Homo sapiens: one gene and its partners. The protein of the gene in region 1 purifies or fractionates together with the protein of each later gene. This does not show direct contact. Each region holds a gene or a part of one and is shown in the gene's direction. Other genes may lie near its edges.

Region 1 (7,028 bases):
TTATACTTGTATATTTCATTAGGACTTTGGCTGATGTCATTGTGAATTATTCAGCCATATTAAAACAATTTTCAATTGAGATAATGACACGCCTCAAAATTATGCAAATGCAGACTGCATTGTGCAAAATAATTATGACAAATGTAAAGCAGGTAGAAAGTTTCCCAATGCAGATCGGTTTTCCACCCTGGTGATGTCATTTCCCCCCTGGCCTAAGTTAGTCATTCATTAGCAGAATAGCAGCAGCAGTCTTCTCTGGAGGAGAGCCTTACAGAAACCAGCATTTACTGCTGGCACCTAGAGGGGGCAACAGGGCCCTCTCATTAAGAAATTTGCTTTGTTTTCACTTATTCCATTAACTTGTTTATATACATTTAAATGATTTTTATTATTGATTTTAAATAGTTTTGAATGATGCATTTGCCATTTGCAATGTGTAACTGAAAGAGAAAGGTTTCTTGGTGATATGCACTGTTACTTGGAGAAAATGTTCAGCACATTTAATCAGCCAGTACAGTTTATTTTAAGTAACCAAATGGAGATTAATAATTTCTTGATTGAGCTGACATCAGCATCCATTTCGAAAGGACAGCCAGGACTCAGTATGCTTTTTTTGGTTTAAGAGAATCATTCTGCCTTTTTATGATTTCTTGAAATGTAAAGACGTCAGTTCTAAAAGCAGAAAAATGATCATTGTGCAAGATTAGAAATAGCGTCCCTGTGTGGTTTGCTGTGATTTGCAGAGGGTTTTTTTTTTTTTGGAATATTTTCTCATGATTTTTGTAATAAATTGTGGGAGGCTGGATAAGGCAGGACTTTGTACACCCATTTTACAGATGGGGACATAGACTCGGAAAGGTTATGTGGTTTGTCAAAGGTCACCAGGCTAGAACCCAGGCCTCCTTGAAATTCAAGGTTATCTTTTCTCCCCAGTGAAACCTACCCTTGAAAGCAGAGCTTGAATTCATCATATTACATTCTAGAAGTGTGTACTAATGTGAACAGTCCCTCAGACATTTTAGAATTGTAACTAGTTAATCAGTTTTGCCAAAGGTCACCAGATGTCTAGGTAGCAAAACTATCCTTATCCTGTAAAGTTAAGCTAATTCTAATCAGTGGTATATAATGATAACAGTTATATTTTAATAGTTATTAATGAGCATTAACAACTTACTATTCATTTTAATGATGATGGTGATGATTTATATGCTTATATACACCAATGCCTTCATATATAATACTTCCAGTGTTCGCAACTGGTGTTGAGGAAAAGCATTCAAGAAAGTCACATTTTGATTCTGCAGCTTGCTATTTGCTTAATCTTGAACAACCATAAGTACTTGGAACCTCAGTTTCTTCAGCTGCAAAATGGGAACAAAGTAGGGATGACTATAGATTGTTGGTGAAGATCAAGAGGATTTATAGGCAAAAGAGCTTTATATACTATAAAGTACTTAAATAAATAGAAAATAATTATGATTATAGTGACCTTTGTTCTAGATATTCTTAATTTTATAAACAATAAAAAAAAAACTTGTGTCTGTGTGGAGGTTCTTGGACCTAAAAATGATACCATCTTAAATTACCATGAAAATGAATAGCAGGGCCATGTGCAAGGAGTTAAGTGTCTTTAGTAATTACTTAGAATTGCCACATTCAGCCACTAGCTCTTCAGAGGAGGAAAATGGCAAAGTAGGCGGGTAATTGGTTCTGTTACTGGATAACTTCTGATTACATTCATTTTCCAATTGCCAAGTGCTTAATCTATTGGCAGTATACCCTCTTAAAATGGGTGGATATGCAAGCTTGGATTTCAGCCTGACCAGCCATCGCTGGGATTTTATAAGAAGGTTTGCTGGTCACCTCCAACTGTGCTTGTGGATGGCTAAGCTAATGATGTCCAGGAGTCAAGATCAGGCATACCTGGATGTTACAGATTCTAGCATGCATTCCAGATTTCTAAAAGTGATTCAGTTATCACCAGCCTCACTACTGAATTAAAAAATGCTAAAAATCCATGTTCTGGGGCCCCTATTGAAGTCTCCTCAAATAGAATCTCTAGAGTTGGGTCCAGGAGTCTGAATTTTAAATATTTAAACAGTCTCAGTCTAGCTGTGTTATCTTGGGCAAGTTCTAAACTCTCTGTGCCTCCGTTTTCTCATCTGTAAAGTGGAAATACGGTCCTTATTTCCTAGGATTATTTTAAGGATTAAATAAGTTAATATATGTAAAATGCATATGCCCAAAGTTGACACATAGTAGATACTTCAATAATGGTTGACTGTTGTTATTATCATTAATATTAGCATTAATCTCACTGAGGTTTGAAACCACTACCATGGAGCTTACTGAAAAGTTTTTCCGTGTGAGGGAATGGCACCTAGGTGAGTTTGCTAGGACATGTGGGCTTCCAAATCCTACCGAATCAGGCTATCTTTCATCTCCATGTTGGCTTTAGCTGTGTCACCAAAATAAAAAGTGTCTTAAGGATTTACATTTTAGTGCAGAAGTAAACTGTCAACTGGATCAGCAGGATTTTTTTTTTCAAAAGATTGCCTGATTTGGTCATATCTGGAGTTAGACAGACACATTCTGGAATTTAGAAGGTGCTGGATTAGTCTTGCTCTTCTCTTTGGATAGCTCCTCAGTCTTGGTCTATATCCATAAGGTAATTTTTTAGAGATTTCTGAGACCTCTTAAATGACCACACTGGCCTTAGACAATTGTTTTAACTTTTTTAAGCCTCTGTTTCTTCCTCTGTAAAATGGATTTAATGGCCTCAACTGTGCTGGGAATCAGAGATAATAATGAAAAGGGTCTGGAATCTAGCATAGTATAGTACCTACACATGAGAGTTCAATGAATAGTGGTTGCACTTATAATAGTTATTATTTATTTTTAGTAATCATCTTAAGCTAAGAAAAGGATTTATCTTTACTCTCTACCAAGCAGGCCTTTTAGAACAAAGATAAGAATGTAAAGAATTACATGGAGAGAAATTACTGGACTGTGACAAGAGTCAGCCAAGTAAGGCCTGAAGGCCAAATCTGGCCCACTGTCTGTTTTTGTGAATAAAGTTTTATTGGAATGTGGCCATGCTAATTTGTTTATGGCTGCTCTCAGGCTCCAACAGCAGAGTTGAGTTGTTTTGACAGTTACCAGATCGCTGACAAAGTAGAAATATTTATTATCTGGCTTTGTTAAGAAAAACGTTGCTGACCCCTGGCCTATGCGGTTGATCTGCAATAAGGTAGATGATTGTGTACCTATTTTTCTTTCTTGAGTTTTGGCCATTAACCAGTAATAGCAGAAATATAAGAAACTTAAGTAATATAAGAAATTGTACTTCAATATTATATCATTAACGTTTACATATCCAATCCAATTTCACCATTGGTTCTAGGACATTAAAATTTGAGAATGAGTGAAATAATATTAAATTATATTTTGTATGGTTAAGAGCGAAACTTTAGCCAATATTAGTATTGTCTATTTTGAGTTAATAAAAAACTACTCGTGAAGTTCTATGTGCTCAGTACTCTGCTAGGTGAAGAGACAGATGCAAAATAGTTTGCGATGTGACCCTTTTTCTGAATAAATTTATCAGTCTTGATAAGGAGATGAGATCAACATGTCTAAAAATGTAAAAGCAATATGAGTCACAACACATCAGTAAATTGTGCTGATAATACATGTCATAGGCATCCAAAGGAAGGCTCCCAACCATCATGTTTTTTGGAAAAAGAATTCATTAAATTTCTCAGATGTTGATTGAAAACCTACTGTGTGCTGGCACTTGGATACAAGAGATTAAGGAGAATGGCCTCGGCCAGGCATAGTGGCTCACGCCTGTAATCCCAGCACTTTGAGAGGCCGAGGCAGGCAGATCACGAGATTGAGAACATCCTGGCTAACATGGTGAAACCCCGTCTCTACTAAAAATACAAAAAAATTAGCTGGGCGTGGTGGTGGGCACCTGTAGTCCCAGCTACTTGGGAGGCTGAGGCAGGAGAATGGCGTGAACCCGGGAGGCAGAGCTTGCAGTGAGCCAAGATTGCACCACTGCACTCCAGCCTGGGCAACAGAGCAAGACTCCATCTCAAAAAAAAAAAAAAAAAAAAAAAGAAGAAGAAGAATGGCCTCTGCCCTCAAGGAGTTCCCAAACTGCCTTTGTAGACAGACAGTGATCACAGAAAAGGCCATCAGACTCTTTCCATCTGTGTTCCTTAGTTTAAGTTGAGACGAACTGAGATCACTATTTATTTGTAGCATTTCTTAATCTTTCCGGAAATTAGAAAGTACTGTCTTCATCTTTGAATTATTACTTCCTGGACACATATTTGTAGAGCACCTATTATGTGCCAGATCCTATTCTAGGCCCTGGGGATGCAGCATGAACAAGACAGACAAAAATCACTGCTCCCAGGGAGCTTATAGTCCAGTGGTTGGTTGTAACCTGTCGTGCACTTTATACCTTGTGCCTTATAGTTATCTGTGTTCTTTTCCTTTACCTTGTCACCTGACCCTATGCTCCCCCCACCATAGTGCTGTTCTCAGGAGCAGGCAGTTGTGCCTTATTCACCTCTGGGTCCTCTGCAATATTTAGTGCTATTCAGTGAGTTTTTTTTTTTTTTTTTTTTTTTTTGAGACGGAGTCTCGCTCTGTCGCCCAGGCTGGAGTGCAGTGGCGCGATCTCGGCTCACTGCCAGCTCCGCCTCCCGGGTTCACGCCATTCTCCTGCCTCAGCCTCCAGAGTAGCTGGGACTACAGGCGCCAGCCACCGCGGCCGGCTAATTTTTTGTATTTTTAGTAAAGACGGGGTTTCACCATGTTGGCCAGGATGGTCCCGATCTCCTGACCTCGTGATCCACCCGCCTTGGCCTCCCAAAGTGCTGGGATTACAGGCGTCAGCCACCGCGCCTGGCCTTCAGTGAGTATTTTCTGAGTGACTGAACGACATAATTAAAATGCCTTCTTGCACACAGTCTACCTTTTTTAAGCTTTACCCAGTTTCTTTCTGGCAGATGACCAGTGACCAGTCATTCACATGTGGGCCAGATCCACGACCCCATCTCACACTTCTTCTTTCTCTTCCAAAGTCTGTAGTCATTTTGCACTGTAGAATGTGAAAACATGGGAAGTGGTTTTTTCACAGGGGCACTCACCAAAGAAACAAGCAAATATTTGAAAGATTAGACTGGAGGCAGCATCTCTGTTTCGTTGTTAATTTTCCAGTCTCAGCAGTCAACCCATAAAAAGTCAGGGCTTTGGGGTGGCAACCTATGAAAAGACTAGACTTCAGGAAAGAAGATTCACTCCTCGCCTGGTGTTGGTTGGCAGTTCATACGAGCCAGCATGTTTTTCAGGCTGATGGTCTTAACTAAGCCACATGTTTGATAGTGCCTCACAATTGTAAGCAATTAAAACCTCTCGACAATTAGACTGTCAGACACATACTAAGGAAATGTTATTTTTATGAAATACAAGAGTCCATACATGTAAATACTTCATTATTAATTATTAATAAAGCATGCCATTGTTCATAGTGGCATCTAGTGATATATGACTCAAGCTCATTTATCAAAGTCTAGTTTTAACCAATATCCAGAATATAATTGCTTGAACCAAATGCATTCACTTGTCATTTTTTATAGCCAGTGTAGTTGGATATTTGCCATCTTCTACTCAGAATAATACTGTAGCTAGTGACTACCCGTTGCCTTGGCTTTTAAGGAAATTTAAAACAAATTTATCGATTGTTGGCTTAAGGATTCATTCACCTCTCAGAGATGTGGTCATGGATTCCCTCATTTCTTGAAGAATCTACACTGCACAAATCCAAGGATGCATTTTTCTGGCCACGCTGTGTTCCTCACTGACTTGCTGGAGATGAGAACCTTGGTCTTAGCCCTCCAGCATACATCCCTCATGCCCTGGACTATGAGCATCAGTATCGACAACACATTTCAAACATGCAGATGATGATGATTATTGAAAGGGTGCTTTAGAATCATGCTAATGGCATCAATCTCTCGCACACACTTGGGTAAATTAATTCTGCTTTTAAAATCAGATGCACTGTTAGCAGCGTTAAAGATGGATATTTGACATTTATCACGCAGACTAGGATGGGTGGTTTAATTACGCGAATTTTCTGTAGGATCTTTGTGGCTGTATAAATAGACGCACAGTGGCGTGTGTCCTTGGCATATGACCATCAGGTTCACAGTCACATCTCCATTCCTGTGCCCCAGTAAGAACCCCAGGCGGCAAAGGCCAAATGTTGCTAGTCAATCTAGTGACCCCATAAACATCTTTTCCCCCACCTTTCTTTTCTCATGACTCCAAGCACACCCGGGCTATGAAACACCCCTTCCACCCCATAGTTGAGTTCCAAGCCTCATCAGTGGCACTAAACATTAAACTCTTGTCTTTGAGAATAATGGGCTTTGCTTTCTACACCCTCAAGCATGTTGAGCTACTGTGCAAGCTGGAAAATAAAAATGTTCTAATTGTGTCTTTTAAATAAGCATAGGAGTGAATTAATTAGACCATATTTTGTCTTTAGTTGCTTAGTTACACAATAGTATTCCTGAGCACGAGTAAGATAAATTGGCTCTTTTTGTGCTGCTTGTCCCTTAATCATAATTACTGTATTGCTTAGGAGAGTAAAGCATACATAGATTTTGAATTTTTTATTAATAGTCAAAAATATGCATATGATATATAAAGTATATGCTGTTCAACCTGTTTTATATGTGGGAAGAAGTTTTATTGTGGTGGTAACATTTGCATTAGTTGCTCAAAGATGTAGTTCTGGGAAATACATAATTGAAATGTTTTTGAATTGCTTTTTCTGGCCTTTTCAATCTTATTCAAAATAATAGTGCTTCCAGTCCTGGAGTAGTCATTCTCATTTGATTTAACATCTTTCTTTGCACTGCACGAGCGGCACCCAGTTTTAACCCTGCAGAGCCTAGATGAAGTTCTGTGATTCATAGGCCATACATTGTGCCTTATGTTTTTTG
Region 2 (7,028 bases), on another chromosome or scaffold:
TCAACAGAATTTAACCAGTCTTTGAAGCTATTCTTTGAAACACTCTCTTCCCTTAGCATCTGTGATGTTACATTCTTGGTATTTCTTCTGTTTGTGACTTTTGAATTTTATCCATGTTTTCTTCTTATCATTTGGAATTCCACAGGCTTTGTCTTAGGTCATCCTCCTTTCATTACTTTTTGAGTTTTAATTAGATTTAGGCTTTCATCTTCTTATAATGGAAATTATGATGAAACTTAAATACCTTTAAAAAAGTAATGACTTGTTTTTGTGAAAGTGATTTATATACATTATACAACTCAAGCATCACAGAAAACATAAAGTAAAATTTACTTCAAATCCCACCACCAGGAATTAAGCAGTGTTAACATTTGGTGAGCATTCTTCTAGACATATTTTCAAAAATAATAGTTACAGTTACAATTACAGGATTTTAGTATGTGCCAGAATGATTGTAAAGTGCTTTAAATCCTTAAAACTATGTGGTAGAGTTATTGTTACCTCCTTTCACAGATGAGACAGAAGGGAAATAATTTGCCCAAGGTCATCATACATGTAATAAGTGGTAGAGATGGTATTCAACCAAGAGAGCTTGGAATTTGGTAAACTCAAGATAAAGTCAGACTGGATCTGCAGGGGGCATAAAGTGGTACCTCCTCTCTGTTTAAATTGTTTAATTTACTTAAACTATAGTTTTTGCCCAAGAACGAAGTCAGGCAAGTAGTAGAACCACACTGTACCTCAGTTCTCAACATTTGGCTCTGAGTTGTTTATTTAGTAATATGTTTTAACACAAACTCTATCAGTTTTTAGAAATTTGTTTAACATTGTCTTTTACTAATTTAGTATATGAAAATGATGATCAGCTCCTGTGGGACCCTGAGTACTTACCAGAAGATAAAGTGATTATATTTCTTAAAGATGCATCTAGAAGAACAGGTGATGAGAAGGGTGTAGAAGCAATTCCTGAAGGATCTCACATAAAAGACAATGAACAGGTCTGTGAAAGAAACAACTGTTAGAACTTTGCCATACACATTTATACATGTAAATGCTGTCACTTGCATTGTTGTTATTCTGTCCACCAAACTTTTTATAACATTATTGACAGGGAATCTGAGGTTATAATCCCTGTAAGATATCCGTTGTTACCACAGTGACTTCATTGGTGTGAAGCTCAAAAACGAAACAAAAACCTGTTTTATTTTGCCTGTATATACTTTTCATTAGGCTTTTTAAAATTCCTTTGGCTATCCCTAAGAATCTGTGTATATCAAGTTGGAATTCTCACCTCGGATTATCTTATGTACATGGTAAGACCAGTGCCTACCATGAACCTATCTTTTTTACCTTTTTAATCATTGTTTTTTTCTGATTTGTTTAAAATTATAGGAATCTCAAGAAGCCACAAAGAAGGGATTTTCATTGATATAAAATGAATTCTTTTTAGTCCTAGGGATACTATGGCCACCAAGTTTATGCATATCCTACTTTGTACATATTTAAAGGTAGTTGATTTATCAGGATCGAATTCATATTTGTTTTTCTTTGGAGTTCTCTATATATAACATTCACTAAAGTTATTTGCCCTCAAAAAGGATGAAAACACTGGATGTTTGAAAAACTTTTAAGAAATTGTAGCATTGAACTGTTTATAGTCCTTGTCACATATTCAAGCCTTTTATTTTTCTAGGCTTTATATGAATTGGTTAAATGCAATTTTGATACAGAAGAAGCATTGAGAAGATTAAGATTTAATGTAAAAGCAGCTAGAGGTAAGTATAGTTTTTATTCATTTTCATGATTTGGCAGAAATTTTAAAATTAAGCTTTTCAGTTTACCTAGGTATAGCCTAAACTTAATAATACTGATTTTTCTGAGTTTGATAAATATTTACAAAATACCAAGTATTACTAAACAAATCGTTACGGGGAGTGGGATTAAGATTGTCCCTTCCTCCTTTGTGGGAAAATACAGTCATGTAAGTAAAAATGTAAAAATTTATACTGCCTTATGCATTCAAGGCATATTTATAAATATTTTCTTATTTGATCTTGATAATTGCCCTATGAACTAGGTAGTATGACAGATAATACCTTTACTTAAAGGTAAAAATTGATGAGCCTGAGATCTCTGAACTAAAGTAACTTGGCGAAAGCAAACATAATTCATCAGTAATGAAGCCATGACTAAAATTTGGATTTTTCTTTTTTATACTATATCTGGCTCCTACCCCCCTTCACTAAGAGTACTACATATATATATATACACTACATATATATATATATATATATATATATAGATATGTAACAAATGAGAGATATTTATTTAACAAAAATTTGAGTGCCTTCTGAATTCTGAGGATGTAACTATAAACAAAGTCCCTTCCCCTCGTGGTGCTTAGAGCTTAGGTAGGGAAACTGGAAAATAGCTGATGAATTCTTCAAGGAAAATTAGAGGGTGCTATTGAAACCTGTAGTAATGGGACTTAACCTATTTGCAGAGAGGGTAGTGCTTTTAGGGAAAGCATTCAGAATGAAGTAATATTTTTGTTGGGATGCAAAAGAATTATCTCAGTGAAAGGGGATGAGGCAGGAAATAATTCTAAGCAAAGGAGAGACACCATGCACAAAGTCTGAAGTAAGAAAGAACATGGCAAATTTAAGGAATTGAAAGGTGGCTGAGATAGTTTGATCAGTAAGAATTAAGAAGAAAGTGGCACAAGTTGAAGCTGGAGAGGTAGGGACCAAATCATTCAAAATCTTATTAAATAAGGAATTGTTGTCACTTTATCTTTTGCAACAATTAGTAATAGAGCTCAGGAGTAAAATGCTTCCCTCATTTTTACGAGAAGGTTAAGTTTTCATTTGTAATTTTGTTATATGCAATAATTGGGGGAATATTGCTTAACAGTTTGTTCCTCCCATCTTGTCAGAGGAATTATCTGTTTGGACAGAGGAAGAGTGTAGAAATTTTGAACAAGGGCTGAAGGCCTATGGAAAGGATTTTCATTTGATTCAGGCTAATAAAGTAAGTAATGATAATCTCTTTTTTGCAAAAAGAAATTTAGTTGAACAACTCAAATGGTCATGTATCGTAATTTGTTATATTGTCTAGTGTTAAAGGTTTCATAATTAATATGACAATATTTTGGTATTTAGTGAGTAATTATAGTAAGGCTGCCTATACTTCCTAACCTATAATTACCTGTTGGTGACTGTTTTCAGTGCATCATATTGCAGGTGTTTAAGAATTGTACTCATTTACAAGCATGTTAATCAACTTCTAGTTGGGGTGTGTATGTGCAATGCAATTCTTTATAGCTGTTTTCCACAGTCTGTGACTGTTTTATGGAGGGCCTTTGAAATGATTTGGAAACTTTAAAGCACTTTCAATATGACATTATTTGCAGTTAAAATATTTATTACATTTGCTTAAGTCCTGAGTGGTCTAAAATCAAATACTTAATATTTAACTTAGTTTTAGTCAACATTTAATTTTCTAGGAGCTTCTGTGTCGATAAATCAGCTTTATATTCTTATAGTTATAATTTGAGGATTTTATTTAACATAATCATTTATCATTTCATGTTGATAATATCAGTCATGTAATTTATACTCCAAATAGCTTTATAATTACTTACAGATTTGTTTTGGGGCTTAATTCTTATAACTGAAATTAGGTATGATTTTTAATAGTAACCATATAATTATATAGAATAGAAAAATGTGTTGTTTCCATGAGCAACACATTAGGACAACAGATTAGGACAGGCAGAATTAAAGTCTTGGAGATTAAATGTAGGAAATTAATTCCCAGGCTTATGATTATCACATTATTTTTAGTTAGTAGAAATGACAAGGGTATTGGTTTATGTAATTCCTTAAAGATAGCTTCTAAGTTTTGTGTCGTAGCTTGTCCAGGACCTTGTTGAAAGTACCTGGGCTTATGTCTGAGGCTCTGAATAGTCTTCTGCCACAGCTCTCTTTTTATACATTTGGATGTGATTGGATTGTATCCAGTTGATTTTTTTGACACATATTTAATATTTTTTGTTATTAATAAAATATTTACAAATCCTGTGGGTTCATTTCTTAAATTTTGTCGTGCATTAACTAGTTTATTCTTATTTTTATTATTTTTTTTTTAAGTGGGAACTGGGCAGTGAAGAGCCCCACTCCCAATTAGTTCATTCTTAATTATTTTGTTGAATGTTGGCAGTTTACCGCAGATAACACTAATAGAGAAATGTTTAGTTTTAGCATTTAGGATAACTTAGAAGACAATGTAATTAGTTTCAAAAATGTATACCCCTAATGTTGTGTTCATATCATCTGATAACCTCAAATATAGTTAACATTCAAGAAAAGGAGTGCATTATGTGACTGGCCGTGTATGTTTTTGATTAAAAAAGAAAAAAGTTCGTTGTTTCATGGTTGAAAGGGACAACATTTTTGGATGAGGTTTTTTTTTTGTTGTTGTTGTTGTTGTTTTTTAACACTTCTGCTTGAATTAAAACACTCTTAACCAAACCATGCTGAATTACCTAAGGAAGGGACCCCTGGAATGATAGCTTATGTAACAAGCAGCAGCAACAACCCTGACCAATATGATTTTTTTAAAGGAGTTAAGAAATTATAGGTGACTTGAAACTTAGAGCCAAGTAACATAAGTATTAAAAGTATAACCTTGATTTCTCATAAATATTTGGGACAGTGGCATTTAAATGTTACAAGGTAGAAGTCAGCTGACCTCTACATAATACACTAAATTACTCTAGTGCACAAAAAGAGGACAGTAATTCTTTAAAAGGGAGACGAGTACTCTAGTGAGAATATCGAGTTTGTTTTTATGTCTGGAATTAAAGTTCAGATCTTAATCATAAGTTCTATTTTGAGGGCTTTTGTTGAAGATTTTTCATAATCTTAACTTTGCATGCCCCAAAATGACTTTATCTTTTTGCTTTCAGTAAAGTACAGTTGACTTAGTTCGAATCTATCTAGAAATAAGATCCTAGAGGAGACAAAAAACAGCTTGAGAGGATGATTTTTTTTAAAGTCCTGATTGCTGTCAGTCTCAGAGCAATATGGATCAGAGCTGTACAGTGCAAACGGGAAGAAAGCAAAATATATGTTGGGTAAGGGAGGGTATCATCAACATTTGTCCTTTAGGTGCAATCAGTGCTACAGAATATTTACTTCAAGAGCAGAAATTTATGGGATAAAGAAGTATATTGCATCCAGAACACATACAGACACTGGATTTCCTTTTAAATGGTCAGTATTGCCGGTGCAGTGGCTCATGCCTGTTATCTCAGTACTTTGGGAGGTTGAAGCATGCAGATTGCTTGAGCCTGGGAGTTCAAGAACAGCCTAGGCAACATGGCAAAACCCCATCTCTACAAAAAATAGAAAAATTACCTGAGTTTGGTGGCATGCAATTGTGGTCCCAGTTATTGAGGGTGCTGAGGCAGGAGGATTGCTTGAGCCTGGGAGGGCAAGGCTGCAGTTAGCGGTTTGGTGCCACTGTACTCCAGCCTGGGCAACAGAGCATGACACTATCTCAAAAAAAAAAGAAAAAGAAAGGAAAAAAGTTATCAGTATTTTATTTATATACATCAGCCCTAAATCCTCAGTATTTTATATATATACATCAACCCTACCACCAGTTCTCCCGGCTAAGTAACAAAAAGGAATTCTGTCAGCATCATTTAATTCCGTAGGCATTTAACATTATGTGAGGGGAGCCATTCAGTTGCACAAATAGGTACAGCACAGTAAGCCGCAAGAGTAACTTAGTAAACAAAGCATTAGCATTATTATGATACTTTTAACTCACTGTGGCATCTTCCCAGACTTTCTAGAGAGTAAATTAACTGAGTCTGGGTTGCTGTTGGGACTAGTAAGAGAATCTTTCAAAAGGGAATTTAAAGATACGCTCCCTAGGTACCCGTACTCTGTGAGTAAAAGTATTAGCAAACTGTTTATAACATTTATTTTAACATGAATGCCACTTCCAGGCCTTTTTTTTGTGTGTGTGTGTGTGAGACTGAGTCTCATTCTGTCACCCAGGTGGGAGTGCAGTGGTGTGATCTCAGCTTAATGCAGCCTCTGCCCCCACCCCCACCCCCTGCTGGGGTTCAAGTGATTCTCCTGCCTCAGCCTCCCGAGTAGCTGGGATTACAGGCACCTGCCACCATGCCCGGCTAATTTTTGTATTTTTAGTAGAGATGGGGTTTCACCATCTTGGCCAGGCTGGTCTTGAACTCCTGACCTCGTGATCCACCCCCCTTGGCCTCCCAAAGTGCTGGGATTACAGGCGTGAGCCACCGTGCCCGGCCAACTTCCAAGCATTTTTAATACAGGAATATATTTTTCTAGTAAATTAGGATGATGGTAGCATTTTAAAAAGCACAGTGCTGTATATCTGAAGACCTGTTGCCAATATATTATTTCTCTTAATAGATGTTTAGAAAGAATAGCTTTCAACATAGCTGCTACACTGTTGTATGTTATATATAGGATTATATTTCAGTTAAGGACTAGCCAAATTTATTTTCAAACTTCAGATGTTTATCATGAAGTAACTTTGTTAAAAAGGAGATTCTTAAAAGCAAGCATTTGTTTCTTACAGGTCCGAACAAGGTCAGTTGGTGAATGTGTAGCATTCTATTACATGTGGAAAAAATCTGAACGTTATGATTTCTTTGCTCAGCAAACACGATTTGGAAAGAAGAAATATAATCTTCATCCTGGTGTAACGTGAGTTAATTTTTTCCTTAAGAGCTATATATACATTTTTGCTAAGCTTTTCTAGATTTTTCTTGAGTTAATTATTATTTTGATAATCTTGCTTTTATATACTTGATCTTAACCAGAAGGCCGAGAGTGATAAAATCTTGCTTTTATAATACACATTAAACTTTACCATCTATTATATCTTCATAAATAAGGCATTTAGACTTTTCAGTGTCTTATGAAATATTGTAAACTACAGTTCATATTATGTATGAGACAAGCATATCATTA
Region 3 (7,028 bases), on another chromosome or scaffold:
TTACTCCTATTTTTGGATTGTAGTTTATTTTATTCTTGTTTCTTATCAGAACCATCAGGTTGCCAGTTTGCTGAAATTCTGTAATTTTGGGTCATTAATAGTACCTTTTTCTTGTTTCCAGCACCACAGATATATTTTCCTTTTTCTCCTTCCCCTCTTCCCATGTTTCTTCTCATTCAATGGGATTTTGAGAAGGTGGTAAGGTAAATGTGTGTCCTATCCGATTTTATTTATTCAACAGTCTGTGTAAGTAATGTTCTGGGTTCTGCAAATAAGGTAGGCCAAGGATTCCCAAGTTTCATAAAGCCTATATTTTGATGGAGGAGACGCATTGAGCATATAAGTAAATAAATAACAGATTATAGCTGTAGTAGATTACAGGAAGTAACTTGGGCTGGGAGAATCAGAGCAAGTGACCTGTATATGGATATCTGAAGAGAAAAAAAGGCTTATCTTATGAAGAGCCGTGGGAAGAGAGCTCTAGGCAGAAGGATTAGCGTATACATAGACTCAGCGGAGGAAGGAGCTCGTTTTATTAAAAGAAAGGCACGTCTGGAGTGTAGTGAACAAAGTGGTGAGCTTGAGCATCATGAGACTGGAGAAAGAGGCAAATGCCAGATCTGTTGGGGACTTGTCTTTGGTAAGGAATTTTTAGTTTAAATATGGAAAAAAGCTTATGAAAGGCTTTAGAAGGGAAGCTATGCAGTTTGATTTTTTTTTTTTTTTTTTTAAGATAATATTGGCTGGTACGTAGAGAATAGGTTTGACTGGGATGTTGCCTGTGGAGGTGGAGAGAAATGAAGAGATTATGGGTATATTTTGCAAGGAGTATCTGTGGACCTTAGCGATGGTACAGGAAGCAAGATGAGTCACAAACGACTACAAGTTATTTGACTAGTACAACCAGGTGATGCTATTTACTAATATGATGAAAGTAGTAGGAGTAACAGATTTGGGAGAGGGAGAACCAAGAGTTATTTTTTGATACAATTTGAAATGCCTTTGAGACATTCAAGTGAAGTTGTCAGGTAGGCAGTCTAGAGTTTAGGGAAGAAATCAGAGCAGAAGGTGAAAACTTTGGAGCCATCATAACAATAGTGTTTAATGCTGTGGGTTTACGAGATGATCTAGGCAAAGTCTAAGTAAGAGAAGAGGGCTCTGGACAGAATCCTGGGGCCTTGACGTTAGATTGGGAAAGCACCTAGGGGAAGGGCACACAGCAAAGGCGATTAGGAGGAGTGACTGATGAGGTGAAGAAACTGGGGGAGCCTGAGAATCAAGCAAAATAATTTCAAGGAAAGTAGTAGTCATCTTTGTTGAATTTTTGAGAGATGGTGTAAGATGGTAAGTGAGGTGTCTATTAAGATTTGGTAACAGGTTTTTGTTGTTTTTGACAGTCAGTTTCAGTGGGATAGGAACTATACTGGAATAGATTTGATGAGTGAATGGGAGATGAAAAACTGAAGGCAGAAAGTACAGGTACCTCTTTTGAGAAGTTTGGCTGTGAAGAAGTTTGCAGAGATGACTGGGTAGCTGGGGGAACAAACCCAAATTCAGTGTTAGACTTTAATAGGCATACTATTTAAAGCTTCATCTATCACTAGTTCTTTTAACCTTTATTTTTTTGAGAAATTCTAAGCATATGCAAAAGTAGAAAATGACCAACCCTGCCCCATCCACAATCCTGTCTACCTCTTCCTTTGCATCATTTTGAAGCAAATCCCATATAATTTCAGTTATAAATATTTCATTATGTTTCCAAAAGATGAACATTAAAAAATGTAAGCACAATGCCATTATAACATAAAAAATTAATGATAATTTCTTATTAATAAATATCCGACTTGTGTTCACATTTTCACTTTTCTCAAAAATTGTCTTAGAATTTTAAAAACAGATTTTAAATAAGGTCCACAAATTGCATATGGGTGCTATCTTATTTATTTATTTATTTATTTATTTATTGAGACAGAGTCTCGCTCTGTCACCCAGGCTGGAGTGCAGTGGCACGATCTCAGCTCACTGCAGCCTCTTCCTCCTGGGTTCAAACAATTCTCATGTCTTGGCCTCCTGAGTAGTTGGGACTACAGGCGCACACCACCATGCCTGGCTAATTTGTATATTTTCAGTAGAGATGGGGTTTCATCATGTTGGCTAGGCTGGTCTCGAACTCCTGAACTCAGGTGATCCGCCCCCTTTGGCCTCCCAAGGTGCTGGGATTACAGGCGTGAGCCACCACACCCTGTCATTTGTTTAAGAACAGGGTGTCGCTTTGTCACCCAGGCTGAGACAGGGTCTTGCTATGTGGCCCAGGCTGGTCTCAAACTCCTGGCCTCAAGCAATACTCTTGCCTCGGCCTCCCAAATGCCTAAAGTGCTTTTGGATTACAAGCATGAGCTACTGAGCCTGGCTAGATTATATCTTTTTTAACCCTCTTATTATCTATTATTTTCTCTTTTTCTCCTTGCAAGTTAGATGTTGAAGAAATGGCATCACCTGTCCATTTGTATGTGCTGTTTGTATCCCCATGGTGTCACTTAACATATTCCTTGAATAACCTCTTTTTCCTATTAGTTGTAAGTTAGATCTAAGGGCTGGAGAGATTGGAATTTTTTTTTTTTTACAAGACTACTTAATAGGTAGTGATGTGTACCTCTATCCAGAGGTGCTTAAAGTCTGCTTCTCTCTCTCTTTTTTTTTTTTTTTGAGATGGAGTTCATTTTTGTTGCTCATGCTGTAATACAATGGTGCTATCTCAGCTCACCACAACCTCTGCCTCCTAGGTTCTAACGATTCTCCTGTCTCAGCCTCCCAAGTAGCTGGGATTACAGACACGTGCCACCACACCCAGCTAATTTTGTATTTTTAGTAGAGACGGGGTTTTGCCATGTTGGTCAGGCTGGTCTCGAACTCCTGACCTCAGGTGATCCACCCGCCTTGGCTACCCAAAGTGCTAGGATTATGGGTGTGAGCCACCGCGCCTGGCCTGCTTCTCTCTTTTAGTGATGTTAGTACCTGCTGATGTTTAGTGCTTAGAACCTTTAGTTCATTGCAGGTTGAAAAATGTTGATACTCTGATTCTGTCATTCCTTCTTCATTTATTAGCTTTAATATGAGAAACCTCTTCATTTGCCCTTTGGTTACCCCGTGAGTAGCACAGTTTAAATAGAAAAAGCAGAAGAAATGCTTTGTTCTTGCCCTATATTTAAGTTTTCAAAGTAATGAGTTGGTTCTTTAGTATCTTCGTATGGTGGCCAAGTAGTTTTTGTTTTTAATGTTAATGTACTCATATGCTTGATATATTTCAATCTGTTACAGTTACTATTTTTATTGATGCTCAAATTGTCCTGTAATAGTGGGAGCCTCTTCATGTTAGCCCAAGTCTTAACAACACCCTGCTTGTCTTTGATAACTTTCTTGCAATCTGGGATAATTAAATATTCTTGTATTATCTGGTATATGTCTAATTTGAAACTTCAGATTAATTCTCCAAGGATATGGTGTTTGGGGATAATATTACTATTTTACTTTTAATTTTTTTACAGCAGTCTATTAAGCATACTTATTTTATAGTCTTTCACATTGTTCCCTTTAGTTCTTTGGATATGAATTTTTCTGTTTGTTTTGCCCCTTTACCACTGAGATTTTTGGCATTTGGGGAATTCTCTTTCTTGCTTTTGAGTGCAGGTATGTGTTAAAGCAAGGTATCATCTTTTTTGTTTTTGTTTTGTTTTTTTCTTTAAGTTTATTGTTTGTCTTATCCAACATTTTGATTTGTTTAGAGTGGGAGGGGTGGCTTCTTGCACTAATTAAATCACCATATTTAGTAAAGTTTCCCTATTGCTATTCCATTTATGGAACAACATGCTCTTATATCAGAAATTACCTTATCTGTGGCTAAAGTGAAAATTACTCACTTGCCTAGGGTTTTTATATTTGTTATGGATGCTTTCTGTTTGATTTTTATTGTAACCTTAATACGTTATCTCTAAGATCAGTTTTGCTTTTGCATATTTCACATATTTTAATCTTTAACTCAGGTAGAGGGCAAAAGGGCATGCAGTTTTTTTCCTTTCTTAATATTTCACTATTTTTAGCTTGGAAACAGGAAGAAAAAGGCAGAAAGGTTGCTATGGAATTGTGTGAACTTGTAGAGGCTGAAATTTAAGCTGCCAAATGAAGAAACTTGTTTTCTCTTCCAAGATTCCTCCTACTTCATGTGTTATTGTGATCTGAATTCTATTGAATTTCTTTTTTTCTTATGAGGGTGTGGGGGAGACATATATGTTATGGTTGTAGTTCTATGAAATATGCCAGGAAGCATACTCTAGTGCTATTTAGAAAGAAAAAGGAAGACAATGAGAACTTGGGCAAACAGTTCTTGCTAAGCCCTAAAATATATCACTTTTATTCATCCATACAGAAAACAAGCATGAGGCCAAGAGGAGGCGAACAGAGAGAGTTAGGAGAGAGAAGATAAATTCTACAGTAAATAAAGATTTAGAAAACAGAAAGAGGTCTCGAAGTAACAGCCATTCAGATCATATCAGACGAGGAAGAGGAAGACCTAAAAGTGCATCTGCCAAAAAACATGAGGAAGAAAGAGGTATGAACAAATCAAGCAGTTTTTTTTTCAAGTATTAAATTGATCTGGGATCTTAATTAGGTAGTAGTGAAGAAAGTGGAGGCATTGAGCTCCTGGACTTAAAAATCACAACTCATATTTTAGTTTGAAAGCATTTCCTCTGTGGTAGATGCTTATTATTTTTTTAATCACAGGAATTTAATTCTTATTGGAAACCTGAAGGCTTAGTTAGGTAAAATTTACCTTGCTATAAACTGATGATAATAGAGTTCAAAGATAATTTGTATATGACATCCTGAAGAAGCCTGTTAAAATGATTGTACTTTTTTTTTTTTTTGAGACAGCGTGTTGTTCTGTCACCCAGGCTGGAGTGCAGTGGCGCGGTCATGGCTCACTGCAGCCTTAAACTCCAGGGCTCCGGTGATTCTCCCCTGAGCCTCCTGAGTAGCTGGGACTACAGGTGTGCACCATCATGCCTAGCTAATTTTTTGTAGAGGGGGGTTTCACCATGTTGCCCAGGCTAGTCTTGAACTTCTGGGCTCAAGCAATCTGCCCTCCTTGGCCTCCCAAAGTGTTGGGACCTCTTTTTTTTTTTTTTTTTTTTGTCTTTTAAAGACATGTCTGAGTTCTGTTAAGACTACTTCAAACTATTATACTGTGAGTTTTAAAATTTTACTATTGAAAGTGTTGTTGGTGGAGTTTTTAATTGCTCATTGGGAGATTTGTGTGCTTCCTACTCTGAGGCAGCTTTTGCATAGATGAATTCTTCTTGGTCCAGAGTATATTTCTTTTTCTCCTTACAGGTCTTCTTTCTTCTGACGAATATCTACCAATAGCTTGTTTTTAGACATTAAAACTTCAGTTTCTCTTTTTCTTTGATTTATGCATCTTTTTAAAAACTTACAGAAAATTTCAACATATGCAAGAGTAGAGAAAATAGTATAATGAACCTCTCTATGTCCACAAATACCTTTTTAAAATTGAGACTTTCAAGCTGGTAGTTAATTTAAAAAAGGGATAGTTGCTCTTTATTGTTCTTTAAAAACCTCTGTCAAAATGATTTCATCTTCACTGAAATGCATTTTTAATTTCTTACACTATTTGTGAGTTATGCTTTGCTTTTCAGACGTTCTGTCTTAGATACTCAAGTGCTTTTTGTATAAATGTAAATTTCACTTATTTTAGACAATAAGACCATTCTACCAGTTTGCTATTTCTCTCTGCTTTATGTGCTTTTATTTGAATAAAGTTACTATTGCTAGAAAACAGCTTCACCAGTATAGCCATTCCTAGCTTTTATCAAAGTTAAAGGTGTCTTAGTATTGTATGGCTAAAGGAGTAAGGTTTATATCGGTTTTGACTGTATTCTAGGAAGGCTGTACTAAGGTACTCCATATTCCTTGGGTAATTTTACTGCTTTTCTCTTTCTATTATGCTCTTCCAGAGGGTTTGAGTTATTTGTTAAATTTGTATGTTTCTTTAACAATAGGGTGCAGAAAACCTATGCCGAGGACTCCTATTTTAGAAGGGAAACTAGGTAAAGAAAAGTCAGCAGAGAAAAAGGAAAAGAGAGAAATACTGCCTGGCTCAGAAAACAACATTCTTTTCAGTTGAAATAGAGGGAATGCAGCTGAAAGAAGAGAATGCTTCTGGTGGTGGGTGAGAGAAGATGAGAAAGCAGATAATGACCATCTTTAGCTGGGGAAATGAAGTCTATATACTTGTGGTAGAACTGTATATATGCAGGATTTCAGCTTTTATTTCATGATTACATGAAAAAAGAAGCATTTGTTTAGCTGTAAATATTTTTTAGGCATTTTCTGTTTATTACAGAAAAATTTTAAGAAAGCTATTTCTAGAGTAAGATATGCTTTTTTTTGTTTTTGATACAAATTGTAGGAAATTACTTAAATTAATTTTTGTAGCACAAACTGGAATCTTATGTAGACCATGAAGTCATTACACTTTTTCTGTAAAGAGCCAGATAGTAAATGTTCTAGGCTTTGTGGGCCATACTATCTCTGTCACAACTACTCAGCTCTGCCATTGTAGCTGGAAAGCAGCCATAAATCATGCATAAATGAATGGGCATGCCTGTGTTCCAGTAATACTTTATAAAGCAGGTGGTGGGCCACATTTGTTACTTGTACTATAGTTTGCCAATCTCTTTCTTTCTTTTCTTTCCTTGCTTTTTTTTTTTTCCTTCTGAGATAGCGTCTCACTCTGTTACCCAGGCTGGAGTGCAGTGGAGTGATCATGGCTTACTTCAGCCTCAAACTCCTGGGCTCAAGCGATCCTCCTGCCTCAGGTGCATGCCACCACACCAGGCTACTTTTTTTACTTTTAGTATAAATGAGGTCTCACTATGTTGCTCAGGCTGGTCTCAAACTCCTGGGCTCAAGGGATCCTTTCAGCTTGGCTTTCCAAAGTGCTGGGATTGCAG

The links. The genes of interacting proteins can lie anywhere in the genome.
Region 2: the proteins of ARID5B (region 1) and MIER1 purify together in Homo sapiens (co-immunoprecipitation; 2 studies listed by BioGRID and IntAct, with this or other methods). This does not show direct contact.
Region 3: the proteins of ARID5B (region 1) and C16orf87 purify together in Homo sapiens (co-immunoprecipitation; 3 studies listed by BioGRID and IntAct, with this or other methods). This does not show direct contact.

The regions. Positions count from the first base shown.
Region 1 is NC_000010.11:61,904,699-61,911,726, forward strand, and holds part of ARID5B (AT-rich interactive domain-containing protein 5B), read left to right. Parts: intron 1-7,028. UniProt on the Homo sapiens protein: Transcription coactivator that binds to the 5'-AATA[CT]-3' core sequence and plays a key role in adipogenesis and liver development.
Region 2 is NC_000001.11:66,969,962-66,976,989, forward strand, and holds part of MIER1 (mesoderm induction early response protein 1), read left to right. Parts: intron 1-846; coding exon 847-998; intron 999-1,693; coding exon 1,694-1,775; intron 1,776-2,935; coding exon 2,936-3,030; exon of another isoform or gene 3,031-5,557; intron 5,558-6,633; coding exon 6,634-6,761; intron 6,762-7,028. UniProt on the Homo sapiens protein: Transcriptional repressor regulating the expression of a number of genes including SP1 target genes. Probably functions through recruitment of HDAC1 a histone deacetylase involved in chromatin silencing.
Region 3 is NC_000016.10:46,807,181-46,814,208, reverse strand, and holds part of C16orf87 (UPF0547 protein C16orf87), read left to right. Parts: intron 1-4,423; coding exon 4,424-4,606; intron 4,607-6,074; exon of another isoform or gene 6,075-6,240; intron 6,241-7,028.